7 linked regions of the Homo sapiens genome follow. The protein of the gene in region 4 purifies or fractionates together with the protein of the main gene of each other region. This does not show direct contact. Each region holds a gene or a part of one and is shown on either strand. Other genes may lie near its edges. The genes, in order: PUM3, DDX27, RBM28, PDCD11, RMP64, HERC5 and PKN2.

Evidence for each region.
Region 1: the proteins of PDCD11 (region 4) and PUM3 purify together in Homo sapiens (affinity purification with mass spectrometry; one large-scale study listed by BioGRID and IntAct). This does not show direct contact.
Region 2: the proteins of PDCD11 (region 4) and DDX27 purify together in Homo sapiens (affinity purification with mass spectrometry; one large-scale study listed by BioGRID and IntAct). This does not show direct contact.
Region 3: the proteins of PDCD11 (region 4) and RBM28 purify together in Homo sapiens (affinity purification with mass spectrometry; one large-scale study listed by BioGRID and IntAct). This does not show direct contact.
Region 5: the proteins of PDCD11 (region 4) and RMP64 purify together in Homo sapiens (affinity purification with mass spectrometry; one large-scale study listed by BioGRID and IntAct). This does not show direct contact.
Region 6: the proteins of PDCD11 (region 4) and HERC5 purify together in Homo sapiens (affinity purification with mass spectrometry; one large-scale study listed by BioGRID and IntAct). This does not show direct contact.
Region 7: the proteins of PDCD11 (region 4) and PKN2 purify together in Homo sapiens (affinity purification with mass spectrometry; one large-scale study listed by BioGRID and IntAct). This does not show direct contact.

The regions. Positions count from the first base shown.
Region 1 is NC_000009.12:2,826,818-2,831,201, reverse strand, and holds part of PUM3 (pumilio homolog 3), read left to right. Parts: intron 1-173; coding exon 174-240; intron 241-1,253; coding exon 1,254-1,428; intron 1,429-2,423; coding exon 2,424-2,527; intron 2,528-4,050; coding exon 4,051-4,129; intron 4,130-4,384. UniProt on the Homo sapiens protein: Inhibits the poly(ADP-ribosyl)ation activity of PARP1 and the degradation of PARP1 by CASP3 following genotoxic stress. Binds to double-stranded RNA or DNA without sequence specificity. Involved in development of the eye and of primordial germ cells.
Region 2 is NC_000020.11:49,235,740-49,240,123, reverse strand, and holds part of DDX27 (probable ATP-dependent RNA helicase DDX27), read right to left. Parts: intron 3,975-4,384; coding exon 3,893-3,974; intron 3,792-3,892; coding exon 3,614-3,791; intron 1,176-3,613; coding exon 1,069-1,175; intron 889-1,068; coding exon 786-888; intron 1-785. UniProt on the Homo sapiens protein: Probable ATP-dependent RNA helicase. Component of the nucleolar ribosomal RNA (rRNA) processing machinery that regulates 3' end formation of ribosomal 47S rRNA.
Region 3 is NC_000007.14:128,302,013-128,306,396, reverse strand, and holds part of RBM28 (RNA-binding protein 28), read left to right. Parts: 3' UTR 1-4,384. UniProt on the Homo sapiens protein: Nucleolar component of the spliceosomal ribonucleoprotein complexes.
Region 4 is NC_000010.11:103,399,344-103,403,727, forward strand, and holds part of PDCD11 (protein RRP5 homolog), read left to right. Parts: intron 1-444; exon of another isoform or gene 445-487; intron 488-1,053; coding exon 1,054-1,185; intron 1,186-3,774; coding exon 3,775-3,942; intron 3,943-4,384. UniProt on the Homo sapiens protein: Essential for the generation of mature 18S rRNA, specifically necessary for cleavages at sites A0, 1 and 2 of the 47S precursor. Directly interacts with U3 snoRNA. Involved in the biogenesis of rRNA.
Region 5 is NC_000003.12:113,013,172-113,017,555, forward strand, and holds part of RMP64 (nucleolus and neural progenitor protein), read right to left. Parts: coding exon 4,277-4,384; intron 862-4,276; coding exon 782-861; exon of another isoform or gene 778-781; intron 233-777; coding exon 101-232; intron 1-100. UniProt on the Homo sapiens protein: May play a role in cortex development as part of the Notch signaling pathway. Downstream of Notch may repress the expression of proneural genes and inhibit neuronal differentiation thereby maintaining neural progenitors.
Region 6 is NC_000004.12:88,459,438-88,463,821, forward strand, and holds part of HERC5 (E3 ISG15--protein ligase HERC5), read left to right. Parts: coding exon 1-33; intron 34-657; coding exon 658-734; intron 735-2,697; coding exon 2,698-2,919; intron 2,920-4,094; coding exon 4,095-4,186; intron 4,187-4,384.
Region 7 is NC_000001.11:88,802,329-88,806,712, forward strand, and holds part of PKN2 (serine/threonine-protein kinase N2), read left to right. Parts: exon of another isoform or gene 1-1,463; intron 1,464-2,062; coding exon 2,063-2,206; intron 2,207-2,517; coding exon 2,518-2,593; intron 2,594-3,168; coding exon 3,169-3,343; intron 3,344-3,562; coding exon 3,563-3,689; intron 3,690-4,384. UniProt on the Homo sapiens protein: PKC-related serine/threonine-protein kinase and Rho/Rac effector protein that participates in specific signal transduction responses in the cell.

The sequences.
Region 1 (4,384 bases), on a different chromosome or scaffold from region 4:
GTTTTCTCTTAAAATACCCAAGACTGTCCTAGAAAACAATTTTTGTTTAGGTTTGTCTTCTCCAGATCCTTTTTTGTTTTTATTTTTTCCTTGCCTGGGACAAATTTCCTCCCTTTGTTTCCAGAGAACTGAAATGAGATCTGAAGTCACTGTAATGTATTTTTGTTTTTCAGATGATTTGGTTGAGTTAAGTAAAGCCAAATATTCGAGAAATATTGTTAAGAAATTTCTCATGTATGGGTAAGTTGTTTTATGTATAAAATACATTTTTTCTTTGTCTTTTGAAGACATGGTTTCCAACTGTGCTCAGATGCGAGATAGGAAGTCTGTGGTCTTTATAAGTAATAGTAATGGCTCTCAGCAGATGCTTGTGTTGTTTTTAGAGAGTATCATCTTAAATACAATTATCGAAATTAATGTAAAATTATGGTACTGCCTTCATTCCTAAAAAGATACATGAGAAATGTCCTGCAAATCTCCTTGAAATTTATGACTTTGATGGAGGTATACCCTCACCTTCTGATTTGTTGGCATTCAAAAGTTTTAAAGACAGAGTGAGCAACAGATAAGCACTTTTGAAGTAGACTGGTATTGTAGCATAGTAAAAATAATTTTACATGATGGATGATTTGTGAATGTTTATCTTGAACCTCTGGAAGAAGAGAAATAGAATAATTAACTTATAATTAGCCACCAGTATTAAGAGGGTGGAGACTGGGGAGGGACAGGTGAGTAAACTGATAGAGGGTCAGTGGGTTAGAAAATGTCAACATGGGAGAATTTCCTAAATTAAGTGGAATTAGTACTTGTCTTGACCAATCTTTTTGAGTGTATTAATGTGCTAGAATATGATAATCAACAACAAAAAGTGTAATATATGCAGTTGACAAAATTTTCAAAAATGTATTCCTAGCTGTAGTTTCCAGCTGTTTAATTCTTTTAGGATATAGTTAAAATACTTGTGATTAAGTCCCATCTTCAAAAGGAATCTTAGAATATGATTTTCTATTTCCTTGAATCTTTTATCTTTTTTCCTGCCCTACTGTTTTTTTCGAGCAGAACAGTTTAATAGGAAATGACATTTATTGAGCATTTACTATGTGCTGGCCACAGCTTCTCAATGCATGCTAGCTCATTTACTCCTCAGAGTGACACAGATTGATGAGTTGGTCTTGGGAGAAGTAAGTTGTGTTTTATTGTCACCCAGCTTTCTCCTTCTATCATTTATTTTTCCATGATTGTGTTGCGTTTAGAAGTAAACCACAGATTGCAGAGATAATCAGAAGTTTTAAAGGCCACGTGAGGAAGATGCTGCGGCATGCGGAAGCATCAGCCATCGTGGAGTACGCATACAATGACAAAGCCATTTTGGAGCAGAGGAACATGCTGACGGAAGAGCTCTATGGGAACACATTTCAGCTTTACAAGGTGACATCTCCAGAAGTCTTTTTCTAGTATTTTTACTTTTCGATATGCTCTTCCTTAACTTCCGGTGCCCTATATATCTTTTGAATGTATTTTTACTGTGGCTGGTTCTTTAAGAGACCATCTTATGCCCTTGATTTTCCCTCATGCTTTATTTTGTTTCTGGTATAGTGAGCAAGTTTCTCTTTCTCCAGAGCATTGGCTTTAAATCCCCTTCAATTCAAACTTTGTTCCTCTCCTGAGTGCTCTGTGTGTAGCACTTCAATACTTCTATTTTTACAGTCATACTGAAGGACAAGACTCCCAATAGTTAGCAAAGTTGTGTGACCACCCCCAACCAGCTCTGGCTGAAGTGTATTGGGCTCTCTGTTGCTAGCTTCTCCTGTGTTTTTTCATGTGCATGCATTGCCCTTCTTCAGATTGTGTCTGGAGATGAAGGGGAACAGAGAGACCTAACCTTGGATAGAGTACAGGGATTGAATCTGAGAATAGTTAGCAGTGGGACTAGCTGGTTAAAGAATCTATTTCAAACCTTGGAACATAAATGCACACATGTGTCTGAAGGGATATGGATTGATTCCCGGGTTGCCTCCATTAGCCAGGTTCAATTCTTGGGTTGAATTTGTTGCTGTACTAATTTTGTTAACAGTTCGTTATATTTAATAGGAATAGCCAACTAATTATAAAACATATGGTGGCAAGAATTTGTGAAGTGACTACTTGATCTCATAATTGGGCAAGAGCTAGGTGCTTGGCAAGTAACTGTTAGCTGGTTAACTTGGTTGGCCTGGCTCTTTAAATGCACTGATAGATACACAGACTGAGAATCAGCTAATCAGGTTACTCCACAAGGATATACAGCAGAGCTTTCATTATGTAAATATGGGAAATCTTAAATTTGTTAAAACTTATTTTAAAATGACTAATTACTTTTCTTTTTCCTGAAGTGAAAAAATTGATTAAATTTAGAGGGGTTTGATTGTTTTGTTTTGTTGCAGTCAGCAGATCACCGAACTCTGGACAAAGTGTTAGAGGTACAGCCAGAAAAATTAGAACTTATTATGGATGAAATGAAACAGATTCTAACTCCAATGGCCCAAAAGTAAGAAAGTTGTTTTTGTTTTGTTCTTAAGAAATGACATTCAAAGGAGGAAGGTTTTCCATAACTGTTGCCCAGAAGAGGTAGCTATTTCCTGCTTACAAGTATTAATCTATTCTAAATAAGAGTGCAAAAGTGTTGGTTTGAAACCATTCTTGGTGCAAAAGGAGATTTCTTTTTCTGATATTGTACCCTATAAAATGATAACTAACATGCATTCGTGATTTATGAGCTTTTTTAAGCAATGAAACATTCTTTCCCCAAATAAAATGTTACATGGAAGCCATGTATACTAAACAGTTTCACAAATATAATCTGTTACTCAAATTTGGTTGTAGGCAAGGTACAGTGGCTCACGCCTATAATTCTAGCACTTTGGGGAACCAAGCTGGGAGAATCACTTGAGGCCAGGAGTTCAAGACCATCTGGGGCAATAGCAAGACCCCATCTCTACGAAAAAATAAGAAAATTAGCCAGGCTTTATGGCATGTGTGTATAGTCTTGGCTACTTGGGAGGCTGAGAGGCAGGAGGCTCACTGGAGCCCAGGAGGTCATGGCTGCAGTGAGCCATGGTTGTGCCACTGCATTCCAGCCTAGGCAACAGAGTGAGACCTTGCTTTAAAAAAATAAAAAAAAATTAAAAAATGGATTGTAAGACTTGGAAGCCTGTGCATGTGCCCTTCATGGCATCTGTCCAGTAGTGGAGTGGCTGAGCATAGCTTTTGGGACCCGACTGCCTGGGTACGACTCCTGGTTCCCCACTCCCCCAACTATTACTAACTGCAATCTTTGGCAACTTAACCTCCCTGTGCCTCAATTACCATATTTGTAAAATTGGGATAATAATAGTACAGACTTCATAGGAATTTTGTGAAGATTAAATGGGTTGGTTGTTCCAAAACACTCAGAACAGTGCTTTGCCCATAAAGGCAGTGTTAGTTTTTGCTGTCTACTTGGGTATCACCTGTGAACTTTAGGTCTTTTATGCCTGACCATCGGCCTCCACTGTACACCTGGATCCACCAAGTGTCACACTAGGGGGTTTGGATTAAGTAGGTGTTGTTGCAATTGCTGACAATGTTTGGTTCATTCAAGTTTTAATTCTGCTAAAATTATTTTGTGAAACAGATGGATTGTGAAGGGTGTTAACAGAAATAAAACAACTATTAAAAAAATACATCCACATGTGGATTTCTAATCATTATGTCCAGTGCTGGGGGAAAAAATGTAGATGTCCTTATTTAATAGAGCAGAGCATATTTCAAATGTTGATTTTATGTTTGCCGATTAAATACTAGAAGTTTATACTCTGGTCTTGGTTGTAGATGGCACTAAATCAATTTTACCATCTAAATTTTTGTTTAAGTTTTAGTATTTCTGAAAAATACAGTCTATTTTATGACAAATTGTATTCAGTAAAACCATTTCACTTGTTTAGATTACTTTAGGACTTTGAGATTACCTGTCTTTGTATGACTGTAGTGCCAGATCTGTTGTGTCTTTTTGCTTTTTTTTTCTGTTTTCAGGGAAGCTGTGATTAAGCACTCATTGGTGCATAAAGTATTCTTGGACTTTTTTACCTATGCACCCCCCAAACTCAGATCAGTAAGTTCTTGGTTTTTGTTTTTAAACTAAAACATGGAGGAGGAGCGGTGTAGAAATTTGAAAAACTGCTTTGATGTACGTTGTCTTGTGGAAATTTTAGAGTTGCTTCCTTATTTAGGGAAGATAATTTACTCAACTCCCTTTGAACACGTTTGCTAATTCCATTTAGGTTTTATTCCAGTAAACAATAGAATTGACCCTAGTTTTACTAATCATATTAAATTTTTATATCTTAATTATAATCCAGAGAGTATC
Region 2 (4,384 bases), on a different chromosome or scaffold from region 4:
TACTCACTGACATCATTGAAAACAGAAGCTCTGCAACCACTAATAATTTCCTATAACCCCCCTTCCCCTAGCCCTAAGTAATCTATAATCTATTTCTGTCTCTGTGAATTTGCCTAGCTAGATATCTCAGGTAAGTGAAATCAGACAGTATTTGTCCCTTTGTGTCTGGATTATTTCATTCAGCTTAAGATTTTCAAGGTTCATCCTTATGGCATGTATCAGAACTTCATGGCTGAATAATATTCCATTGTGTGTATATAAACACACACCCCAAATTTTGTTTATCCATTCACTTGTTGATGAACATAGTTTGTTTCCACCTTTTTGCTATTATGAACAGTAATTCAAAGAGCACTGGCATCTAAGTATCTGTTTGAGTCCCTGTTTACATCCTTTACAACAGTGGTCCCCAACCCCAGGCTGCATACCGGTTCCAGTCCATGGCGTATTAGGAACCAGGCTGCACAGCAGGACGTGAGCATTGGGCAACCAAGCATTGCCACCTGTGCTTGGCCTCCTGTCAGATCAGCAGCAGCATTAGATTCTCATAAGAGCACTAACCCTATTGTGAAGTGCGCATGCGAGGGATCTAGGGTGTGCACTCCTTATGAGAATCTAATGCAACCCCCACACCCCAAATGTGGAAACATTGTCTTCCACGATACTGGTCCTTGGTGCCGAAAGGTTGGGGACCGCTGCTTTACAGTATAGAACTAGGAAATGGAACTGCTGAGTCCTGTGGGGTAATTCTGTATTTAGATTTCTGCGGAACCTCCCTGACTTACTTTTCTCCTTCTTCCTCTCTTCTTTGGTCTGGAACCAGCTCCTCTCGGGCTCTTGGACCACTGCCTCCTTCCCCTTCTCCAGGAGCCGCTTTGCTGTATTGATCTGTAGAGATAACAAAAGGATGCCTGCCGTGAAACCCGTATCTACTAACACAGGAAGCCACGGGCTGCAAATGCCTGGGGCTCTGATGGGAGAAACATTTCAGAAGGGCAGCACCAGCAGGGATGCAGCAGCTTGCTTACTGAGCAGCCTTGTGAACAAGATCCCGCCTCGCAGCCTCACCTGGGCTTCTGACTGCTGCATCTCTTTTTCCTCCGCCTCTAGCTGCAGAACTGCATACACATCTTTCTCCATTTTCTCAATCTTGTCCCGGAATTTGAGGATGACATCTCAATGGGAGAAAATAAAAAGGATTTACAAATAAGGGTAGGCCAGGCATGGTGGCTCACACCTGTAACCCGGCACTCTGGGAGATTGAGGTGGGAGGATTGCTTGAGCCCAGGAATTTGAGGCCAGCCTGGGCAACGTGGCCAGACTCTGTCTCTACAAAAAAAAAAAAAAAAAAAAAAAAAGCCAGGCACAGTGGCTCATGCCTGTAATCCCACGCTTTGGGAGGCCAAGGCAGGTGGATCACCTGAGGTCAGGAGTTTGAGACCAGCTTGGCCAATGCTGTGAAACCCCGTCTCTATTAAAAATACAAAAATCAGCTGGGTGTGGGGGCACACGCCTGTAATCCCAGCTACTACTCAGAAGGCTGAGGCAGGAGAACTGCTTGAACCCACGAGGCGGAGGCTGCAGTAAGCCAAGATGACACCACTACACTCCAGCCTGGGCAAAAGAGCGAGACTCCATCTAAAAAAAAAAAAAAAATTAGCCATCATGGTGGCACACACCTGTAGTCCCACCTACTCAGGAGGCTGAGGAGAAGAACTGCTTGAACCCAGGAGTTCGAGGCAACAGTAAGCTATGATCGCACCCCTGTACCCCAGCCTGGGCAACAAAGCAAGACCTTATCTTAAACAAAATAAGGCAGTGGCTCAAGCCTGTAATCCCAGCACTTTGGGAGGCCAAGGCGGGTGGATCACGAGGTCAAGAGATCGAGACCATCCTGGACAACATGGTGAAACCCCACCTGTACTAAAAATATAAAAATTAGCTGGGCGTGGTGGCATGCACCTGTAGTCCCAGCTACTTGGGAGGCTGAGGCAGGAGGATCACTTGAACCCGGGACGCAGAGGTTGCAATGGGCCGAGATCGCACCACTGCACTCCAGCCTGGCAACAGAGCAAGACTCCATCTCAAAAATAAATTAAATAAAATAAAATAAGGGTGACTACTAATACTGTGTAACTGATGAAAATAATTTAGCTGTGCATTTACTGACATAGGAAATGGTGTCTGTAATGTGTGCCTTCTCTGCTTCATATCCCCCAGACTCAGAGTGGCCCCTGCCTACCGCTCTGATCTTCTGTGTGTCCCTGCTCACCACGCCTGAGCCTCCTGACCTTTCTCTTGTTCTCACACACTAAGCTCGTTCCTACCTCACAGCCTCCACCCTTGTTCTCTCAGCTCAGCACTTTGCCCTCAGACCTCTCATGGCTGCCTCATTCCGATCACCCAGGACTCAGCTCCAATGCCAGCTGTGCAGAGGCCTTTCCTTAACAGCTTAATGAGGCAGTCTCCTCCTGCTGTTCTCAATCACATCTACTGTTAGCTTATTTATTGTCTCTTTCTCCCAGAACCACAGCTCTGCTTTGTTCCCTGCTGTATCCCCAGCACCTAGAACAGAATCAATAGCACTAGGCCCACAGCAGGACTCAATAACTAGTCGCTGATTAAATGAAGACAATGAAAATGAAAAAAATAAAAGGGACATTTAAGAAAGGAAAAATGGTTTGAAAAGACATACACCTAAATGCTACCAGTGGTGAGCTCTTTGACACAGAATTACATTTTTTTTTATTTACTAATTTCCAACAATAAATACGTACTTTTCATTTCATTTTTTAGAGACAGGGTCTTGCACTTTTGCCCAGGCTGCAGTGCAGTGGCACAATCATAGCTCACTGCAGCCTCAACCTCCTGGATTTAAGAGATCTCCTGCCTCAGCCTTCTGAATAGCTGGGACTACAGGCACACACCACCATGCCCAGCTAATTTTTTTTTTTTAGAGACAGGCAGCTCACTATATTGCTCAGGTTGGTCTTGAACTCCTGGCCTCTAGCAATCCTCCTGCCTTGGCCTCCCAAAGTGCTGGGTTATAGGCAAGAGCTACCATGCTCAGGCTAAATATGTATTATTTTTATAACTTTAAAAATTTTTAAGGCTGGGCATGGTGGCTCATTACTGTTAATCCCGGCACTTTGGGAGGCAGAAGGTGGGTGGATTGCTTGAGCCTAGGAATTCAAGAACAAAACAAAACAAAAAAAGACTTTAAAGAGGATGTGCTTTATAAGACCCCCACAGATCAGAGGAACAAAATCAATGAAAGGACCCAAAAAGAATGAGTACTGATCTCTCTCTTCCCCACCACCAACAGTAAGGGAAAGAGGAGTTTAGTGAGAATTTTGCCCCAAGCAACCTTCTCTTCTCAATTTCCACCTAAATGGGGCACTGTGTTTACAATTCTGTCATAATTCCCTTCTACACACAGGAGGCAAGCTCAGAGAGGTGAGGTGAAACCTGCACATGGTCACTCGGCAAGGAAGCAGCAGGGCTGGAATTCAAATCTGGCTCTGAACTGCAAAGTACCTGCTCTCAGCCATTACACTCTGTCCTTGCCCCGCCCACCGAGCCATTCTGCACTGCCACAGGGGTGCCTGCTCACCTTGGGGAAGTATCCTGGCCTTCACAGGGGCCTTGGCAGCTTTTACAATCTCCTTCAGCATCTTCCGCTCATCTTCTCCCACCAGAGAGACTGAGCGCCCAGCCCTGCCAGCACGTGCTGTTCGCCCCACCCGGTGGACATAATGTTTGATGGTATTAGGCATTGTGAAGTTGATTACCTAGAAGGTCAAAAATGAACGTCAGGCCTGGCAAGGGAAGGGGGGTGCGAAGAGGCAAAAAGACTTCCACCAAAAGTCCAAGGAAGATAGTGTCTGCTCACCGTTTTGACCCCCTCAATGTCAAGTCCACGGGCTGCCACATCAGTGGCCACGAGGATGTCAATCTGTTCATCCTTAAAACGCCTAGAAACAGTCACAAACAGCTGTTCATCCAGACACCCTCCCCTAATAATGCTCCACAAGAGCCTGAGCCAGCAGAGGACAGAACAGGGCATTAAAATGGGGATAGAGGCTGGGCACGGTGGCTCACGCCTGTAATCCCAGCACTTTGGGAGGCCGAGGTGGGCAGATCACGAGGTCAGGAGATCGAGACCATCCTCGCTAACACGGTGAAACCCCGTCTCTACTAAAAATACAAAAAATTAGCCAGGCATGGTGGCGGGCGCCTGTAGTCCCAGCTACTTGGGAGGCTGAGGCAGGAGAATGGCGTGAACCTGGGAGGCGGAGCTTGCAGTAAGCCAAGATTGCGCCACTGCACTCCAGCCTGGGCGACAGAGCGAGACTCCGTCTCAAAAAAAAAAAAAAATAGGGAT
Region 3 (4,384 bases), on a different chromosome or scaffold from region 4:
TCATTTCCTAAGGACCCCAAAAGACAGCATGAAGGAAAAAATAATAATAAACTGCTGTTCACAGTGCCTTGAGTGTACCACCGTACTTTCTGCTATGCCTTGTCCATTCCAATCTGGACAGTCTCTGTGCCCCTCCTTTCCACTCAAGTGTTATCCAGCACTCAAGTTCTGGCTCAAGGCCCAACATCTCCGTGGGGACCTCAGCCATCCCAGGGCATTGTGACCCCTTCCTCTAAGTCCCCGGCACACTCGCTGATTGGTACCCTCTCATTCGACAAAGCATATGCCATTGTGGCTTACTTGTCATTTCTTTAGGTCTTGCCTTCCCAAGTAGATCATGAGCCACTATAAGAACTAGCTCCCATAGTCCCAGCCCCTGGGCCTGGTACATGGCAATGCTTAGTGATTGGTGATTGAGGATAATGGTGGTAAAGGATGTACCAGACAGTCATCTCCTGAAGAGATGCCGAACAACCTGTCCTTGTTTTATGTATTTTCTCTTTCTTTCCTGTCCAGTTTTATTCCTCTCATAGTAACTGCTAAAAAAATATCAGTTCCTGTCACTCTTCCACCCCTTTTCTCCCTCTCCCCTGCATTGTGGTCTGGGCCTTGGTCCACTAGCAACTCCCCTTAGGTGTTGCTTAATCTGCCTCATGGCCAAAGCCAATCCCATTCCTGTCCCCCGCTACCCAAGGGACTCCCAGTCTGTATGCACAAGGCGGGATGTGAAGTCTGGATGTGCAAGAAACCCAGCTGTAAGAAACAGCTTCCCTCGGCTTGGCATGGTGGCTCATGCCTATATTCCCAGCACTTTGAGAGGTCAAAGTGGGAGAATCACTTGAGCCCAGGAGTTCAGGACTAGCCTGGGCAACATAGCAAGATCCCACCTCTACAAAAAAAGAAAAAATTCAGAGTCTCAAATGTCCCTTCATCTCCTTACTCTCGACCTGTCTCCCTAGTTCTCTGCCGCCTTTTCCTCTCCCCTGGATCTGACACTCAATTGTCTGCATGCACTTTTCAACTGAAAGAGACTCCAATGCCATCCTTCTGATGAAATTTTTGCTTTGGATACTACTGCAGAAAAAATGCTATCTTGTATTCTGGTCCATGGTGGGGAAGACCCTGTCGTAGAACCTGGCAACTCAAGTGGAGGGAGGGGCCAGAACATTGTTCTTATGCTATTTACAGTGAGACAACAGGATTGATGCAGAACTTTCTTTTTTTTTTTTTTTTTTTGAGACAGAGTTTCATTCTTGTTGCCCAGGGCTGGAGTGCAGTGGCATGATCTCAGCTCACTGCAACCTCCACCCCCCAGGTTCAAGCAGTTCTTCCTCAGCCTCCGGAGTAGCTGGGATTACAGGCGTGCGCCACCACGCCCCACTAATTTTTGTATTTTTGGTAGAGACGGGGTTTCACCAGTGTTGGCCAGGCTGGTCTCGAACTCCTGACCTCAGGTGATCCACCCACCTCGGCCTCCCAAAGTGCTGGGATTACAGGCATGAACCACCGTGCCCGGCCGTGATGCGCAACTTTCTAATAACATACTTTTGAAAGTGCCCAGACATACATCCCTCCTCTGGTACCACAGTGGCCATCAGTTGCCAGAGAACATGAAATTATCCAGCCCTCAGCTCTGCAGCAGGATTCTGAGGAGTAAAGCAGGCCTGTAAAGTACTCTAAAGTACTTCAGAGAGGTAATGCCACAAAGCGAAGAACACCTCTTGGAGGCAGAGCCCCTCAGCCCTATCCAGGCCAGCAGTGTCCACTTGAAATCTGAAAGCAGCCTCCCTCACCAAACCAGCAAGATGGAAAACCTCCCTGGGTTGGCAAGTGGCCCTGGGAAGTACATGCCCCATCTCTGTCAGGATAGCAGTGGAGAGGTTTCGTGCCAGTGCCAGCTCCACCCACCCAGATGGTACTCAAGACTCCAAGCCTGTCAATGGGGTGGAAACTTTCTGGCATTTTCTGTCAGAAGGGTGAGTTAGCACTGAACCATCTCATGTGTCTTTTCACTGAGTAACAGCCCATATCCATTCCATGAAATGAGTGACTGCTTTGTTGAATCAGATAGTAACAAACATTTATTTGTAGTCTGGTTGTGTCATATCATGGTTGAATTGCAAACAGGTTGGATAGAAGAGTCAGCAAAAATCAACAAAAGCATTCTGTAAAAAACTTTTCTAGAATTACAATAAATGGCATTGTATATTTTATTTATAAATTATGTGCTGCACATCATTTTTATCAATGAAATTTATAATAAATTTCTGTACATATATACATTTTTATCCCAGAGAGCCAGTTGTTAAGCATTTACCAGCAATAAATGCTTTTTGTTTCCTGCTTACACAGGTTCTGGGAGTGGCCAGCCCACTCTTTGAGATGTCCCCACTTGCTTTTTTAGTTGTCCAAGTAGTGTTCTGCCCAGCCTTCCCGACTCTCTTTCTTATCCTTCCCTCGAAACTATTCTGTTCCTTATGCTTAAATACTTTCCAGTCATGGGAGCTTTGCTGTAGGCCCTTGGCCTTTCATGGGTAGCTTCTGATACGTGCATGGGTGTTAATAGAGGAAGTTGACCCCGCCTGGGAAGAATAATGACCTATGGAGACCTGGCCCTTTCTCTTATGGCTTCTTAAAGTGACAGCTGTTATGGGAAGTTCAGGCATCTTGACGTGGAAAATACATTGTTCATTTTCTTTTAATTTTTTTTCCCCTAACCACTATACCAACAGGGATGGAAAGATACTTTTAGTTGGAAGGAATTTGGAGCCCTTAAACGACACCTGGAGCAGCTGCCTGTGGGTGGGGCTTTGCACAGTCTCATCCTGGCAAGGGAGGACGAGCCAAGGACCAGTTTTGCAGAATTGTCATCATGAGGCCCTGGTTGTGTGCTGGGCTGGGGCATTGCCCCTTTCCAGGAGGCCAGGCCAAGCAGGGCTGCCTGGCTTAGGCTTTTGCATCTTCAGCATCCTTTCACGTCTCTTATCTCAGGTGACCTTCACAGCAAGCCTGGTGAAGGTTATTGAGAAGCAGATGTCACCACCTAGTCTTAGAGCTGATGAAAGCAGGATGTGGGGAAGTCCAGACCCTCTCCTGAAACCCCTTGGCCACCTGAGCTAGTACCAGAGCAAGGTCCCACTTGGCCGTGAGTGCTGTCTCTAGGGCCTATTTCAGGAACTGTCTCATATATAAGAACAGAACACTTTTTGCCAGCTATACCAAATGTTTTTGGGATTAAAAAAATAGTTTCTCTTTTCCAAATTAGGTGGTAAGAAAAGGAAGGGCATTTTCATTCTCACATTCTTTGAATGTTGAAACGTTTTAAAAACTTCCAGCTGGGCTTGGTGGCTCATACCTGTAACCCCAGCACTATGGGAGGCTGAGATGGGAGGATCCCTTGAGGCCAGGAGTTCAGGACCAGCCTGGGCAACATAGTAAAACTGCCCAAAATTTGAAAATTAGCCTTGTGTGGTGGTGTGCACTGTAGTCCCAGCTGCTCGGGAGGCTGGGGCAGGAGGATTGCTTGAGCCCAGGAGTTTGAGGCTGCAGTGAGCTATGGTTGTACCACTGTACTCCAACCTGGGCAACAGCGTGATACCCTGTCTAAAAAAATAATAAAAATAAAAAAGGATTAAACCCTTTACTTGACCAGCTTCTTTTCCTGCTACCCCTGGACTAACTAATCATTACATATTTTTGTAGTTGTTTTTTCTTTCTTTCTCTCTCCTGATCTACCACAAGCCAAATGTACTCATATACATACTAATAGGTGAAAAAAGAGAGTCTGAGGAGTGAATACATTTATTTTGTGATTTCCTAGGCAGTAGCTAGGACTCCCTTAGAGGTTGCTAATAGGGAAAGGGTGCGCTGGCTCTACTCAGTTTTATAACTGCTTTTCCCCGAATTCTGCAGACATCTTCATTCCCCTGGAGGTCAGATAATGGCTATTTATTTTCCATAGCCATGAAAATCTCTGGGGAGAGCTGTGGCAATTTGACGAGAGCTATTAAAGGGACATTAGGATTGAAGTAGCTGCTCAGGCAGTCACATACCCTCGATCCTCATCTGCAGGGACAGCTGCCAGAACGAATGAGCCCAGCTCTCCTGCCCGCAGCCAGCCGCGTGTGGGTGCAACTGGCGACCAGCCACTGGAGTGAGTCCCAGGGAAGGGGACAGGTTCTTAGAATCACCATTTGTCTCTGCTCTCTCCCTCTCTGCAATAGGACGGGCACTCTAAACTCACATAATGGTTAATAACAACAGCTAACAATTACTGAGCACCTACTATGTGTCAGGCATGTGCTGAGGATGATCGCATCAAGTAAAATGCCTGTCTCTGGCCCAGAGGCCCAGAAGAAGAGAAAGAAGGGAAATCTGTAGGAGG
Region 4 (4,384 bases):
CCAGCTGATGTTTTTGTTATTTTTGTTGTTGTTTTTTCAAGAGATGGGGAGAGATGATGTTTCACTCTGTTACTCAGGCTGGACTTAAACTCCTGGGCTCAGTCGATCCTCCCTCCTTAGCCTCCTGAGTAACTGGAACAACAGGCATGTTCCACTGTGTCTGACTGATCATTGCATTTTTACAGGGGTTCCTTGCCACATGTAATGGTCAGAATTTGCATTAGACTTCACAGTCTCACCTAGACTAGGCTGTGCTCCAAATGCTTGGGGAAAGGGAACTAACATTTGAGTGTGTGGCTTTAGGTCTGTATTATGTAATCTTTTCAACTGTACTGTGAAGCACTGATTGCAATTCCATGATGAGGAACAGTGTCTTGCTCTGTCGCCCAGGCTGAAGTGCAGTGTTGTGATCTCAGCTCACTGCAACCTCCACTTCTTGGTTCAAGCAATTCTCCTGTATCAGCCTCCCGAGTACCTGGGACTATAGGTGCGTGCTGCCATGCTCGGCTTAATTTTTTTGTATTTTTAGTGGAAAAAAAAATACAGCCTGTTGGCCAGGCTGGTCTTGAACTCCTAATCTCAAGTGATCTTCCCGCCTTGGCCTCCCAAAGTGTTGGGATTACTGGTGTGAGCCACTGTGCCTGGATTTTATATAATTTAGCTGAAACCACATAGCTTGTTATGGTGGAAAAGATGAGAATTTAACTTGGGTCTGTGTAACTCTGGTGTCCATTTTCATGCACTATTCTACATTGCTTCTCAAACTGGGGAACCCAGTGTTCATCCCAGTCAAGAGAGGGAGAACACAAGAGAGAAGAGACTTTGGGAACATGAAGGAGGCTTCTCAGACCTTGGGCAGAGGGAACATTGGCGGCCCCCCCCCTTTTTTTTTTTTTTTTAAGCAAGAATTAAAGGAACAATTGGGAGTGGGATGGGGTAGGGTGGAGTGAAGGAGTAACAAAGCAAGGTGAGTGATGACCTGAAATAGGAGGGAAAACTCAGATTGCTTCTTATTCTTTTGGGTCTTTGTGGGCTCCCCCTACCCGCTTCTAGATTTCTACTGAAGAGGGATCCACCAAAAGAAAAAAGAGCCAGAAGGGGCCAGCAAAAACAAAAAAGTTGAAAATCGAAAAGAGAGAAAGCAGCAAGTCCGCAAGAGAGAAGTTTGAAATCCTTAGTGTTGAGGTTTGTTAAAGTTGGTTTTCATTTAAACAATCGACCTTGGTTGCTTAAGTTTGTGTATGTTCTTTTTTTCTTCTTTCCTTCTTTTTTCCCTTAATTCCATTTTCCCCTTAATATATTATATTTCATGCGTGTGTGTGTAGAGATGCTTGGAATTTATGCTAAGGAGTAAGCATGATTTCCTTCCATTGCTAACCGATGCCAGGAATCTTTTCTTTTTCTTTGTATTTATTTATTATTTTCCAGAGACAGGCCTGACTCTGTTGCTCAGGCTGGAATGCAGGCATGATCATAGCTCACTTTAGTCTTGAACTCCTGGGCTCAAGCAATCTTCCTGCCTCAGCTTCTCCTGAGAAATTGGGACTACTAAAGGTGTGTGTCACCATGCCCAGCTAATTTTTAAATCTTTTGTAGGGCTTGGATCTTGCTATTTTGCCCAGGTTGGTCTCGAACTCCTGTGCTCAAGCAATCCTCCTGCCTCAACCTCCCGAAGTGTTGGGATTATAGACATGAGCTACCCACCGTGCCTGCCCCCTTTTTTTCCTTTAAAGCTGTCGTGGGCTTGTTTGTGTCCTCACAGGACTTGAGTTCTGATATATTCAGAGGTTAGAATGGACAGTAACTTTAGCAGTCATTCTCATCTTACCCATTCATTTCATAGATGTGAAACCCATTTCCAAGAATTGAAGTGGTCTGTGTTCCTTACATTTTTATTTTTTATTTTTTAATTTTGAAATTATTTTATTTTATTTATTTATTTATTTTGAGACGGAATCTCTCTCTGTTGCGCAGTCTGGAGTGCAGTGATGTGATCTCAGCTCACTGCAACCTCTGCCTCCCGGGTTCAAGCGATTCTCCTGCCTCAGCCTCCTGAGTAGCTGGGATTACAGGTGTCTCACCACGCCTGGCTAATTTTTGTATTTTTAATAGAGACGGGGTTTCACCATGTTGGTCAGGCTGGTCTGGAACTCCTGACCTCGTGATCTGCCTGCCTTGGCCTCCCAAAGTGCTGGAATCACAGGCGTGAGCCACCGCGGCCAGCCTGCCTTACATTTTTAGATGATAACACCAATATGTGTTAGTTATAAAAAAGAAAAGAAGTTAAATAACTTTGAAGAGGAACATTCATATTTGGCTAGATTCAGAGTCAATATTTTGTCCTATATGATACTTTAAAAAAATTGTTAGACTTGGTGCCAACATTAGAAAACTAAAATTTTTTTTTTTTTTGAGACGGAGTCTCGCACAGTCGCCCAGGCTGGAGTGCCGTGGTGCCATCTCTGCTCTGCTCACTGCAAGCTCCGCCTCCCGGGTTCTCGCCATTCTCCTGCCTCAGCCTCCTGAGTAGCTGGGACTACAGGCGCCCGCCACCACGCCCAGCTAAGTTTTTGTATTTTTGGTAGAGACGGGGCTTTACCATGTTAGCCAGGATGGTCTCAATATCCTGACCTTGTAATCTGCCCGCCTCCGCCTCCCAAAGTGCTGGGATTACAGGCGTGAGCCACTGCACCTGGCTGAAAACTAAAAATTTTTTTACATGAAAATATGATTTCTGGCTTCTTGTAAAAATTTGAAAGTACTGATAGCAGAAGGCCCGTATTCCCTCATGTTTGTAATGACAAGGAGCTGAGTAGTGGTTGTGTCCTTTAGACCTGGCATGGTCACTCCAGACTGCCATTGTCTCCACTAGCTGGCTTCCTTCATTGTGTTGTCTGCCAGGCATTTGAGTTTGGGTTGCTCAGAATAATGTAAAAGGCAAAGGTGTCCTCCAGTATCCCAGTGCTGTTAACACTGTTGTATAATCTAGACCTTTTACAGTGCTCGGTCAGATATTTGAGAAGTTCACTGATATGTACACATGTGTATTTCTTTTCATTTATAAAATTCCTGTAGGTTTTTATTTTTTATTTATTTTTATTTTTTTATTTTCGAGACAGAGTTTCACTCTTGTTGCCCAGGCTGGAGTGCAGTGGCATGATCTCAGTTCATTGCAACCTCCACCTCCCAGGTTCAGGTGATTCTCCTGCCTCAGCCTCCTGAGTAGCTGGAATTACAGGCACCTGCCACCATGCCCGGCTAATTTTTGTATTTTTAGTAGAGACGGGGTTTTGCCGTGTTGGCCAGGCTGCTCTCGAACTCCTGACCTCAGGTGATCCACCCGCCTCAGCCTCCCAAAGTGCTGGGACTACAGGCATGAGCCACTGTACCCGGCCTATTTTTTATCTTTATTTTTTGAGATAGGGTGTCACTTTGTTGCCAAGGCTGGAGTGCAGTGGTGTGATCACAGCTCACTGCAGACTCAACCTCCTGGCTCAAGCGATCCACTCACCTCCGAGTACCTGCGACTACAGGCGTGTACCACTATGCCTGGCTAATCTTTTTTTTTGGAGAAACTACGTTGCCCAGGCTGGTCTGAAACTCCTGAGCCCAGGCAGTCCTCCTGCCTTGGCCACCCAAAGTATTGGAATTATAGGGCGTAAGCCACTGTGCTTGGCCTTATAGCTTTTAAATTGACACTAGAAGCCAGACCTTCCAACCTTCCCTATTGTTGTTCCCATCCTTATTGTACACATTTCACTTTTTCTCTTCTAGTCCCTGTGTGAGGGAATGCGTATTTTGGGTTGCGTGAAAGAGGTGAATGAACTGGAACTGGTGATTAGTCTCCCCAATGGCCTCCAGGGCTTTGTGCAAGTCACTGAAATCTGTGATGCCTACACCAAAAAGCTGAATGAGCAGGTGACACAAGAACAACCTCTGAAGGTAAGGGAAATCCGAATGAAGCCTGTTATTGAAAATAAGTGGAACACAAATAGATTTAAAATTACAACTTTGCCAGGTGCTAAGAAGGGAAAGTACAAGGTCCCGTGAGAGTTTATCATAAAGGAATTTTTGACTAAGTCTGGGAGCCTGGAAGACTGTTGAGGAAGGGATGCTTAAGCTGAGATCTAAAGAATGAGGGTTCCCTAGATAAAGAAGGAAAGGCGTTCAGGCAGAAGCAATGTAATATATAACAGAGAGAAGGCTAGTATGGCTAGGTAAGGAGAGCAAGAGAGAGTGTGATGTGAGATGGGCAGGAGAGCCTGAATGGGGGCCAGGGCACATGCAGCCTTGTAGACCATTTTAAGGGTTGTTTTTAAATTCTAGAATCAATGGGAAGTCCTTGAAATGTTCTCACTGGGGTACAGCATAACGTGTAGATTGA
Region 5 (4,384 bases), on a different chromosome or scaffold from region 4:
TAACTCCTATGGAGTGTTAGCTTTCAAACAAAAATACTGTTAAAAATATCCAAACAATTCCAAATCAAAAGAAGGTATATTTCAAGATATTCAAGGATACAGAAAAGTTTTGCAGCAGCAGTCCAACAAGCGGAGCAACAACTTGCAGGCTCCCAAAACCTTCATCAACACCAACTCCACCACTGGCTGACTGGGGACAACACATACTTTGGTAGTTAAGGGCTGATTTTCACTTGAAAAAAATAGAAAAAGTACATTACTTTCACTTAAAAAAAAAGGGTTTTTTTTTTGTTTTTTTTTTTTTTACATTTACCAGTTTATTATAAAGGATATGACAAAGGATTGAAACAAAGAGATGCATAGGGCAAGGTATGGCAGAAGAAGCACAGAGCTTCCATGTCCTCCCTGGGCGACCCTTCACATTTTCAGCTATGTGCAAGCTCCCATTACTTTCATTTTTAAATATAAAGCATTTCTATAGCAGTTTTCAAGTGAAGACTTGCTTTAAGCTCAACTTGAGGTAGTTAAGCACAATAACAGCCCACTGATGTTTTAATATAATCTACCATGACCCAGATTTCAATGTCACACCAGTCACTCCCATAGATCAATGTCAGAAGATTACCACAAACACCAGGTACCCCACATTAAAACAAAATTTATACAGCTGAGGTATAATTGGTTATATTCCAACAGCAAGCATAGAGAAATCCAAAGGGAGATCACAAGACATTGAGTTCCCAGCCCACCACATCACAAAGCAACTGGACCACTTACTTACTTGGAAGAAAACAACTCAAACAGGTCTTGAATTGAGCCCTCCAAATTCATGTTTTTCAAACGCTTTAAACATTGCTCAACCTGAAAGAAGAAGAGCAGTTCAAATTCATGTGTATGTAATGCAGACAGGGTCACTGATTATGACCAGGAAAGCAAAGACTTCTAGATTTTCAAAGTATGGAAATATGCTAAATATCACAGAATACCTTATTTTTTTTCAGGGTAGAGAAATCCAAAGCGCAAGCAATTGCTTCTAGTTACAAATTTGGAATTTATCCAGCCAAACACATTTTTAAAATCAGGTGACTCCTAAGAAATTAGTATATGCCACAATGAGCTTGATGTCATAAAAGGGACCAAAACGAGTATAGGTTATTCTCAAGATTATAATTTTGCTAAGACAAGATTTTTTTTTTTTTTTTCAGATGGAGTCTCACTCTGTCGCCCAGGCTGCAGTGCAGTGGCGTGATCTCGGCTCACTGCAAGCTCCACCTCCTGGGTTCACACCATTCTCCTGCCTCAGCCTTCCAAGCAGCTGGGACTACAGGCACCCGCCACCACGCCAGGCTAATTTTTTGTATTTTTAGTAGAGACGGGGTTTCACCGTGTTTGCCAGGATGGTCTCGATCTGGACCTTGTGATCCGCCCACCTCGGCCTCCCAAAGTGCTGGGATTACAGGCATGAGCCACCGCGCCTGGCCGACAACATGATTTTTAATAGTGAAACTATTAAAACAAGATAGAAAATTATTAACTACTAAATTTCAACAGTCTATAAAGTACCACAGAGATGAGGAAAACGATTGGCTTTAATCACTGAACAAATATATTCTTTGATTAGATGAAGCTTGTTCTTATGTTCCTCTGCATCTTCTCTCTTTCTCCCTTCTCTCTCTTGGGTTTTTTTTCTCTTTTGAACCGCAGTTCACTTACTATGTTTTCCAAGTGCTTTACCATCTGGGTTTGTCAATACCTCCCTCAAAGGATGGTGTCCAGACTTGAAAACTGAAAAAGATAGGAGCTGACCCTAAAGAATTTAAGGATTGTTCCCTCCATTATTCTTGAAAACCGCTGTTAAAACAGAATCCATAACCTTGGTTCAATTTCTAGAAGTATATTTGCAGCTCTGGCAAGATACTCTTGTTGCCAGTATCAATGCCCATCCAAATTTTTGTATCTGTCTAGATGCAGTCCCATGCTGCCCTTTGTGTGTTATTCCTGAGGACTACAGAATTCCTACAGCATTTTGTACCATGCATGGCTCTTACTTTTTTTAAAAAAAATTAAAAATCCTATTGAGTGCTTACTGAACACTGTTCTAAGAACTGGATTATGGTGGTAAACAAAAGGGACAAAATACATTGCCCTTGTGGAGCTTACATTATAGCTGGGAGAGAAAGGCAGTCAATCAATGGCAGGTGGTGTTAAGTGCTATGAAGACAAATAAGGCAGAGAGGGAGTGCTGAGAAGATTGCAATTTTAAATAGGGTCTGTTTTTATTTTAGCATTTAATTAAATATTTTACATGTCTTCCTATTTTTACTACTAGATTTTTAGCAACTAGAGATAGGGAAGTTTCTAATACCACTTTATCTGCCAGCATGCCCTACATGTACTCCACAGAACAGGAATCAAAACTACTTTCTGTGTTCCATTTAGGGGAATGTTTAGAGACAGGCCAATTCTAGTACTTACATGAAAGTTCTCTGAAAACTGTGAAATATTAAGCAGTTGTAAGGCAGTAGTAGAAGTGGTAATAGCAGCTGCAGCAGTAACATAAGCATAAAACATGTTTCCTACTTCAGGGATCACATGGAATATAAAATATATACACAAATAACTTTACCATGACACAGACTATATTAAATGCTATAAGTACAAAGAGGAGGCCCAAATAGCCAAGAATTTAAAAAAAAAAAAAAAAAAGCAACTTCAGTAATAATCAGAAAAATACAACTTAAAATGAGATTACTATAACACAGATTATCACTGCCAGAAAGGCTTAAAATGGGACTTAGAGGATAGGAAGGCCTTTAACAGGCAGACATGGTGAGGCTGGGCATTCTAAACATACAGGACCAGGTAAGCAGACTCAGAAGCAGGAACAAACATAGTGAGCATGCAGGTGTGTTGAGTCCAGGTTGGCTGGAATATAATCTATCTGAACGCAAGAGAGAAGCCCGAACTAAGAAGACTGAAGAGGCCAGATCACAGATCTCGTAAGCCAAACTAAGAAGTTTGGTCTTTACTCAGGACACAATGGAGAACGACTAAAAATCAAAGTTGTGTTTTCAGATGATTAACCTGGTTTTAATATTTAGAATATGCCAGAACTTAGGAAAAGCTGAAGGAGGAAACATCAGTTATGATAGTAAGACAACTAAAAGTTGACAAGGTCTAAGAAAGGAAAATGGCAGCCAGAACTGAAGAGGGGACCAGATGCAGAGGAAGTTTTGTCTTATGGACTGCCTGGATGGGAGAGCTACGTAAGAGAGAGAGACTAGAGAATGCCAAATTTTGATGACGGGGTGATTATTCACAACCCAGAAGCTAGAAGGAGAAATATATTCACTTTGAGGGTTAGCAAGCTTGCTTTTGGATCAAAAAGACTCCGAAAAAGATAAAAGCCACCCTAGAATGGAAAATTTAGGGAAAGACCATGGTCCCAGATCTTTCTTTGATGAAATCTTCACCCTGTTTGCTTTAAGTACTAGGGGTAGAAAACTAACCAGAAAGCATGCATCTATAAGGTTAGAGACTGTGTCTACCTTTTTCACTCCTCTATACACAGCACTAAGCAGAATGCCTGGCACACAGAAAGTTCAAAAACACTTGCAAGGTAGCCCTGTCACACAATGGATAGCCTTCTGAACTTCCAGAAAATACTTGCAGAATTAAGTGAATGAATGAATGAGCATATCAGGAAGCCAGCTTAAGAGAGGCTCTACTCTATGGTATAGCCCCTGAGCTGGAGGGCCCAATTTTGTCTTAAGCTCCAAACATTACATGAAACCAGTTTACACCACAACTTGCTATGTACCCATTTACTCTAACATACCACCAATTAGATTATGTACCCCATAATAAGTAGACAAGTTTTTTTAAAAATAATTTTAGCATTCTGATTATGCCCAGGGAACTGTTTCTTAATGTCCAACATTTTGTCTTGCTCAAATCACTTTATCTTTGAGCTGGGCAAAGGCACTGTTGTTATAGATTGTATATAATGAAGAAAATGTTTACTTGCCTATTAGAAACAAGACTGGGAAAGAATCTAAACATACTTCTTTTCTAACAAAAATTACTTTTTGAAATGCTGAAATGCTTTTAGGAAAAAAAAAGAAAGTGCACATGTAACTGTGGGCTATAGGCCTATAAAACACAAGTAATTTACTGAGATTTCCACGAGATTTCCATAAATAGCAATATAGTAAGTGGCAGTGTGATCTACATTTTCAAGTGAACAGGTTGGGTCTCACCTACCGGGCTTCCTCACCTGTTTGAGGGCCAAATGGGGTTTGTGGCGGCCCATTCTGTTGTGATTGCTGTAAAGGACTGCACATAACACATCTGTTTCTGCATCTAAGGTTTGGCTCTTCAGCGA
Region 6 (4,384 bases), on a different chromosome or scaffold from region 4:
TGAGTATGACAACTATAGCATGAAACATCTAAGGTAGGGAACTTTTTTCTTTTATTAAAAATTAATTTTAATCAAAAGACAATAATAATTTCTGTAGGAAATATCTGATTCTTGTCCCCTGCTTTATATAGTAGCATCTTAAGTAAATAATAAATTCTGAACTGACCAGTAAAGTCCTTATGTCCCCCAGGGCAGGTATCATGTGTTGTTTTGGCATTTAAAGGAAATGATTAAATAGTCTGCCTAGCCCTAAATTGGACTTTCCTATTCATTAACTCATTTGATCCTCACAATAATCCTATAAGTTAAATTTCTGGAAATAAAAGTTTTTAACCTAGAAAAAATACACATTATCATGAAATAATTTGTGAGACTTTTCCCTAGTAGATTATATGAATTAGAACTCATTTTCATCTTGCATTTATTCCTGCATCCTAAAATTGTTTGCATAATATTTTATTATAATTATGTAATGCATATTTTTTCTTAATTAAAACATAGTATTTAAAAAATAATTTTAGATGTACTGAATGTGATGCAGTAAATTGAAAGTTTTTTCTTGAGCTTCATTTCTAATTAAATACTATTAATAGTTCTAAAATCCATGTTGTAACTTTCATTATGGTGATTAACACAAAGTGTATTTTCCTTCATCAGGTTTGAAAGCATTTTACAAGAAAAAAAAATAATTCAGATCACATGTGGAGATTACCATTCTCTTGCACTCTCAAAAGGTAATTTTTCTGTAATATTAATAGTTTTGTAGAAGTAATACCTGTGTGTATATGTGGAGCCAGTAGAATGTCTATATTTCACTTGTAACAGGACAGAAATACAGTTTTGAATTTGATATGGTTCCGAGTACGATTCTTAAAGTAAATACATAATGAGAGAATTCTTGGATCTGTAAAATGTTCAGGTTTCCAAAATTACTATTCCTAAATTTGGTTTCATGTTTTTATTTTTCAAGTACGAAACAGTGAAAATTTTCTGAATAATCAAAACTGTTTTCTCTACATCTGATCCAGGCCTGGGGCCACCCTTTTCCAGAAACTGCTTCCCTTTTCCTAACACCTTTCCAACTTCCACTCTTCCGGCTCAGAATCCCCTTTTGTGGCCAGGCTGCAGACCTCTGATACGTTTTAACATTGCTTTTGAATTCAAGGATCTCCCTAGCCCTGTAGTATTTCCCATTTTCTATCAGACACTGTCATGGTGGGAAATGGAAGCAGTGAATATGAATTATTTCCTAAAGAAACTTGACTATGAGGCCAGGCTTGGTGGCTAATGCCTATAATCCCAGCACTTTGGGAGGCTGAGGTGGGAGGATCACTTGTAGCCAGGAGTTTGAGACCAGCCTGGACAACATGGGGAGACTTCATCTTTACAAAAAAACTTAAAAATTAGCTGGGCATGGTGGCTTCCACCTGTAGTCCCAGCTACTTGGGAGGGTGAGGCAGGAGGATCCCTTGAGCCCAGGAGTTTGAGGCTGCAGTGAGCCATGATCGTGCCACTGCACTACAGCCTGGGTAACTGAGCGAGACCCTGTCTCAAAAAAAAAGAAACTTACTGTGAATGGAATAATTAAGATAGAAGTAGGGTAATAGAGGGGAATTCGAAGTCAAGGGAATTTTTGTTAATATATAGGACAGATGTAAACATGTTCATAAACTGAATAGAATCTGGGATTCAAGGGAAGTTAATAATTAGTGAGTATTTGACCTTCATTGCAAGGCCTGTTGAGATTTGATAGTATGAACTTGTATTGGAAGAAATTGATCATTTGACTTCATTCATTCATGAACAAATATTTCATATTATCTACTGTGTTCGGATTATGAAGATGAAACACACAAGCCCTGCCTTTAAGAAGCCCAGGGTCTAGAGGCGTGTATGTACAAGGGTAAAGGGATATTCAGAGTTTATTACTAGTAAATCACAGTACAGAAAGAATAAAAGTTGGGGAAGCAAGAAAAGAAACTGGTCATGCTCATCATTATATTCCTGGTGGTTGACAGGTGCATGAAAATTGTGTGTGAAGGAGAGGCTCTGCTTCCCACCACATCCTGCACAATATCTTGCAAAGAGATTCCAGTAAACCTTAATTCTCTGGTGTATTTTTTTAGACTCTATTAGATATTGTCAGCTCTATCAGATAACATCTAAGAACGCTCCCTAAAAAATGTGCTCCATATATTCAGTTAATGGAAGAAGAAACTGACTCGTTCAAGAAACTGTAATTTGAAATTAATTTTACAGTTGTTTATTTGGGATCTTGTAATTTCAAATGAATTTTACAGTTGTTTATTTGGGATCATTAGGCACATGAGAGAAAACAGTAGCGCTGGGGTTTTTCATAGAGGTAGATTGCTTCTGTTTTTCATGGGCCCGTCCTCTGAGTGTTTTAAAGTAAATATTTCTTGAATTTGATTTATAATCAAATTTATTATGTTGAAGATATTATTTAATATGTTCAAATAGCTTCACTTTTGAAGTGAGGGATAAGGAAGTGTAACTGTCACTGCTAAAGAGAAGATTCTGTGTTTTTCTGTGGCAGACATAGGGTAACTGAGAGTACCATCAGTGCAAAGGTACAATATTGTGATATTATACTAGGTAGAGCATGCATAATGCTTTAGGGTAATGTCTGCTGCATTTTAAATGGAATAAAACAGCATTTGCTTTGTTTATGTCAAGGTGGTGAGCTTTTTGCCTGGGGACAGAACCTGCATGGGCAGCTTGGAGTTGGAAGGAAATTTCCCTCAACCACCACACCACAGATTGTGGAGCACCTCGCAGGAGTACCCTTGGCTCAGATTTCTGCCGGAGAAGCCCACAGCATGGCCTTATCCATGTCTGGCAACATTTATTCATGGGGAAAAAATGAATGTGGACAACTAGGCCTGGGCCACACTGAGAGTATGGAACACATTCTCAGATTCCTATTACCAACAGATATACTTGTTAGATGAATTTAATGGACCTCCCTGTCAAAAATGGTTCAAATCTTCACTTTCATTTTCACTGCTCTTCCTGATTACCTCTCTGTCTTCAGGGCAGAATCAGTCCAAGAGGCATACATAGTGTGGAAGTTGTTACTGTAATTGAGACATGTTTCAGGGCTGTGTGTGAGACGGGAAAGGGCATTGAATTAGGGATGAGAACCTGGATTCTGATTCCCACTTTGCAGTTTACTAACTGCAAGCCTTGCCCAGTCACTAAACTTTTCTCTAGACCTCATTTTCTTTTTCTGTCAAGTGACAAGTTTGGATGAGATGACCTTTAAAGCCTTTGCACTTAAAGTCTGTTAGTGTATTATTACAAAAGAATACTAAAATTATATTTAAGAACTCACATATCCTGATCTTATTCTATAAGGTATCAATTATGTCTGTAAACACACATGAAGAAACATGTAATTTCCATTATTGAACAAAGCTGATGGTGAAATTTCTCATGATCCCAAACAACTCATTAAGAGTTTTCAGGTGTAAGAAATTCTGCTGCTTTACCCAGCTGTGGTACTGTATGCATTACCCTGGATCACTGGTTACTCATTTCTCCCTGACACAGTGCAATGGTCATTACACAGAATAGCCCATAAGTCAGTGTTAGAAAAATATTCAAAGGAGAGAAGAGAATAAAGCGGCCATTAAACTACTTTGGCTGAATCTCTGAGTGCTTTTGACATGAAAATAATCATGAAGAAAAGAAGAGGTAGTGTCAGGTGATGACACTAGTAGATAATTTGAAAGAAAGGAATTGCTATGTTCATTAAAAGTAATTCTAGATGGCTGTTGGAAATATCTAATGTGCTGCAATTAAAGTGAATCAAGTCATAACTGAGAACAGGCTTTGGGAAGTGGTTTGACCCTTTCACAGGTGGGTGCCCCTAAGTGTGATCCTTTTGGCCACTGGTCCCACCTTCACCCTGAGGCGTAGAACTTGATCCTAAACATGGCAACATAGAGCCTTTCTTGTCAGAATATCATGAGAACTGTTGTCGCTGGGTTGAGAAGCAGCAGTCCAGGTAACTCCACTGTGAAACTCAGCATTTCCTTTTGGTCACTTCAGCTATTTTTTTCCTTACATAGGTAAAGATGATCCATCCCTTATTGAAGGACTAGACAATCAGAAAGTTGAATTTGTCGCTTGTGGTGGCTCTCACAGTGCCCTACTCACACAGGTGGGTGTACCCTTGTCTCTTTTTGGCTGTATTTTTAGAAGAACAGTTTGTATGGGAAGTTAGTGTTTCCCAGAGAAGAAAGGTCATCACTTCCTGTATGTAGGACTGTCCTTCTGATATTTAGGAGCTTTACTTTGACAGTGCTATTTATTAGTGATTCACTTTGCATCAGTGAATACTACTTTTTTATTTTATTTT
Region 7 (4,384 bases), on a different chromosome or scaffold from region 4:
TTTTTTTTTTTTTTTGAGACAGGGTCTCGCTCTGTTGCCCAGGCTGGAGTGTAGTGGCATGATCTTGGCTCACTGCAACCTCCACCTCCTGGGTTTAAGTGATTCTCATGCCTTAGCCTCCCAAGTAGCTGGGACCACAGGTGCGTGCACCACGCCCGGCTAACTTTTGTATTTTTAGTAGAAATGGGGTTTCACCATGTTGGCCGTTGCTAGTCTCGAACTCCTGACCTCAAGTGATTCACCCACGTCAACGTCCCAAAGTGCTGGGATTACAGGCATGAGCCACCTTGCCCAGCCTATAATGTACTTTAGTTTGAAGCATGGAATGAAGAGACAGAGGAAAGAGAAATTAGTCAATATGTTAGTTTTACCAGACTGGCTGGAATAAATAGCAAATGAGGTGATTGGACCTTCTCTTATTCACAATAAGACAAAATCTTACCATTTTAGCCAGTGTAAAAGTGTAATAAGAACTTTTAACAAGTATTAATTCTGTCTCTAGCGTATGTGCATCTTGCATCTTCCTGATGCATAACAAGTCTTCCTTGTAACAGTGGAAGAAAGCAGGAGAAAGTAGACCTCTCTTCCTCCAATCTAAAAAAATGGAGTCTAAATTACCAATCCTGACATGATTCTTCCTCCAGTTTATTTCACAAAATAACTGCTTCCAAAATACTTAACACTTTTAACTTCAATAGAATATTATAGCCTTAGTACCCCATCCCTTCTATATGCCATTTGCTAGTCTTAATTATATTCTCCTCATACTTCTTTCATGACAGTTCTCTCCCATATTAATTATGAGTCAGAGAGAAGAAATGAGGTGGAAGGCCCTGAGATCACATTCTCACTGCCATAGACGTATTTTTCTAATTCTTTTCCTGTTTGACTGTGAAACCCTCTGGCACATTGTATTTTGATTCTTTTCATGTTGCATTTTTTATAAGTGTTTTTCGTGTTCATTAACATCAACTAGATATATAATTTAAGGTCAATAGATTTTTTTTTACTGTTTATACCAAAACGTTACATAATGAAATGCATAAGTTTATAAATTGAAATTTGTTATATAAAATAAGTAATTTATTGCTTTGTAGAGCCTTAAAAGGAGAAACATTTATCTCTTTTTGTGGATGGTGTACAGAAGCCTGAAAAACAAAATAATAGAAAAGTCCAGTACTTTATGATTAAAATGTATATACGTTAAAACATATAGGTAGAGGTCAGTATATGGTTTGGCCACAGCTTAGGAACTATGTTCTACAGGTGCATTTAAACACTGGTTATTAAAACCTTAAATATATTTCGCCACATAAGCATTATTTTCAGTGTCTACTGTGTATTCTCTCATACGGCTTTGGTATAATTAACTTGTCCCTGGTTTTTGAACATTCAAATTCTTGCTAATTTGCTTTTTAAATTATGTTTTATTGTTATAATAAATGAATATCTTTCTGTATAAAGCTTGGTCTGAATTTCCCCTTTCTTCCTTTCGTACGCAGAATGGGTCTTGCTACCCAGTGGTATTCTTTTGAAAATTAAATGACCTAATATTCTTAAAGTGCTTATTAGCACAATATGTGGCACATTGTGAGTACAGAATAAATGCTATTTGCAGAACTTTTTCTGGCTTAGCAATGAGACAAATAAATACAAAGGTTTCAAATGAGTTATTTGAAGCAAGCATTGGGGTAGTAACATAGCACATGATGGCAAATAGAGGAGGGAAATCTGAAAGATTGAAGCTCTAAGAGAAGGAGTTTCGGTGGTTATTCATCTGTATTGGTTGTTCCCAGTTGTGTATTCTTTAAGTATACTTTAGGAATACCTTAGCTGGAAAATGTCACAATGTAAGTTTTGTTTCTTTGAATTAAAATGTGTAAGTTTGATAAAGTACTATACAGTTGAGAAATGTTACAAACCTCTTTAAAACAGTGTGACCTTTGTGTGTGTAATTTTTGTTTATTGTATTTGTATTTCATATTTTTTGTGATATTTTATTCAAGTGTGTGTCCAATGATGTCTTTTCTGTTTTCTTTATTATTTTTTTTAATTATCCTAGTCACGTGAACTGGAAATTTCAGTTTATTGGCGTGATTGGCGGTCTCTGTGTGCTGTAAAATTTCTGAGGTTAGAAGATTTTTTAGACAACCAACGGCATGGCATGTGTCTCTATTTGGAACCACAGGGTACTTTATTTGCAGAGGTAATAAATGTATTTTATTAAATGTGCATAACTACAATTGAAATTACATATGTAGGCAGCATAATATAGAAGTAGAAAGAGTGTTAGGCTGAAAGACAGATGACTTGAGTTCTTGGCTGAGCTATGCCACTGAATAGGTATGTGACTTTGAGACAAATCAATTATTCTTCCTATGTCTGTTTTCTCATGTAGAAAATGAGGGGCTGGACTAAACTGTAACTAAGATTCTCTTAAGCTTTAAAATTTTATAAATTTAGTAGATTTCATGAACCATGCTATTTTCATGTCAACTTGAATTTTCTTCACTGCAGGTTACCTTTTTTAATCCAGTTATTGAAAGAAGACCAAAACTTCAAAGACAAAAGAAAATTTTTTCAAAGCAACAAGGTAATTACTAACAATCAAATGCATAGCATTTTGATATTTTCTTAAACAATCTAATTACCATTTAAAAAGTAATAGCCATCTGTGTGGGTTTTTTTGTTGTTGTTTATTCATTTATTTCTAACTTCTTATTAAGGAATATTTTAAATGTATCCATAAGTGGAGAGACTAGTGAAATGTACAGTCACCCGGCTTCAACAATAATCAACTCATGGCCAATTTTATTTTATCCATATGCCATCCTCTCACTACTTTCTCAAATTTGAAGCAAACCCAGACATCATATTGATGTATTCATAATTATTATAATTTATATCTAAAAGATAAGATTTATTTTTAAAACCTTACTACTAGACTTAAAGAGAAAAAAACAATTTCTTACCTATTTATTTTTAAAACTACGTATGCTATTTTGCATTAGCCTTTACTAGCAAATAGTAAAAAACTAGTTTTTTTAAGTGACAAATTTTGTTTGTTCTTCGTAGATTATAAACTAATGGATAAGAATTTTTAAATTATGACTTTTGGTTATACATAAAGAAATTACTTGCTGTTTTTGTTTTTTTCAACATCTACAGGCAAAACATTTCTCAGAGCTCCTCAAATGAATATTAATATTGCCACTTGGGGAAGGCTAGTAAGAAGAGCTATTCCTACAGTAAATCATTCTGGCACCTTCAGCCCTCAAGCTCCTGTGCCTACTACAGTGCCAGTGGTTGATGTACGCATCCCTCAACTAGCACCTCCAGCTAGGTATGTGTCTGAGATTTTAAGCATCTCTTATACAAAGTTATTGGGACATTCTTACGTACTGATTATAGCAGGTGTACTGAGTCTTGCTTTTTTCCCAAGTAGTATTTTGAAAGTAGTGTTCTGTTTACTTAAAAAGTAAATTGTTTGCTTTAATTTTAAAGCTGTTTAAAATACAGACTTTCTATTACTGTTTTGGTGAGTTACTTTATCTTCTATAAGTGATTCTACAGTAACCAAATTGGACTTTGATCTTGAGCCTGAACCTCCTCCAGCCCCACCACGAGCTTCTTCTCTTGGAGAAATAGATGAATCTTCTGAATTAAGAGTTTTGGATATACCAGGACAGGCAAGCCATTTTAAACCTTGCATAATTCCTCTTCACTGAATGAATTAGCAATAAAAGCATCATAGTGAATAAGGCGTGTCTTTCCATTTAAAATTGCCACTGAACTGTGAATTTATGGTTTTTTGTTTGTTTTTTGTTTTTGTTTTTGTTTTTTGAGACAGAGTTTCACTCTTGTTACCCAGGCTGGAGTGCAATGGCATGATCTCGGCTCACTGCAACCTCCGCCTCCCGGATTCAAGCGATTCTCCTGCAAGCCATTCTCCTATCTCAGCCTCCTGAATAACTGGGGTTACAGGCACATGCCACCATGCCTGGCTAATTTTTGTATTTTCAGTAGAGATGGGATTTCATTATATTGGTCAGGCTGGTCTTAAACTCCTGACCTCGGGTGATCAGCCCGCCTCGGCCTTCCAAAGTGCTGGGATTACAGGCATGAGCCACTGCACCCAGCCGAATTTATGTTTCTTATGGTCTAGTCTCAGCTAAATTAGACTGAGTTGGTAGGAGACAACCAACTTCTTAATGTTGGCATGAAATTGTCATTAGCCTCTGGATGCTCATGGTCCAGAAGAGATAGAATAGGCTGCTTAAACTAGAGGTAATATAGGAGTGTGGTTGATACTACATGACATACTGCCTGAAATACTATTCTTCTTCTAACTTGATTAACATACATAATAATGTGTTAGTTTTTC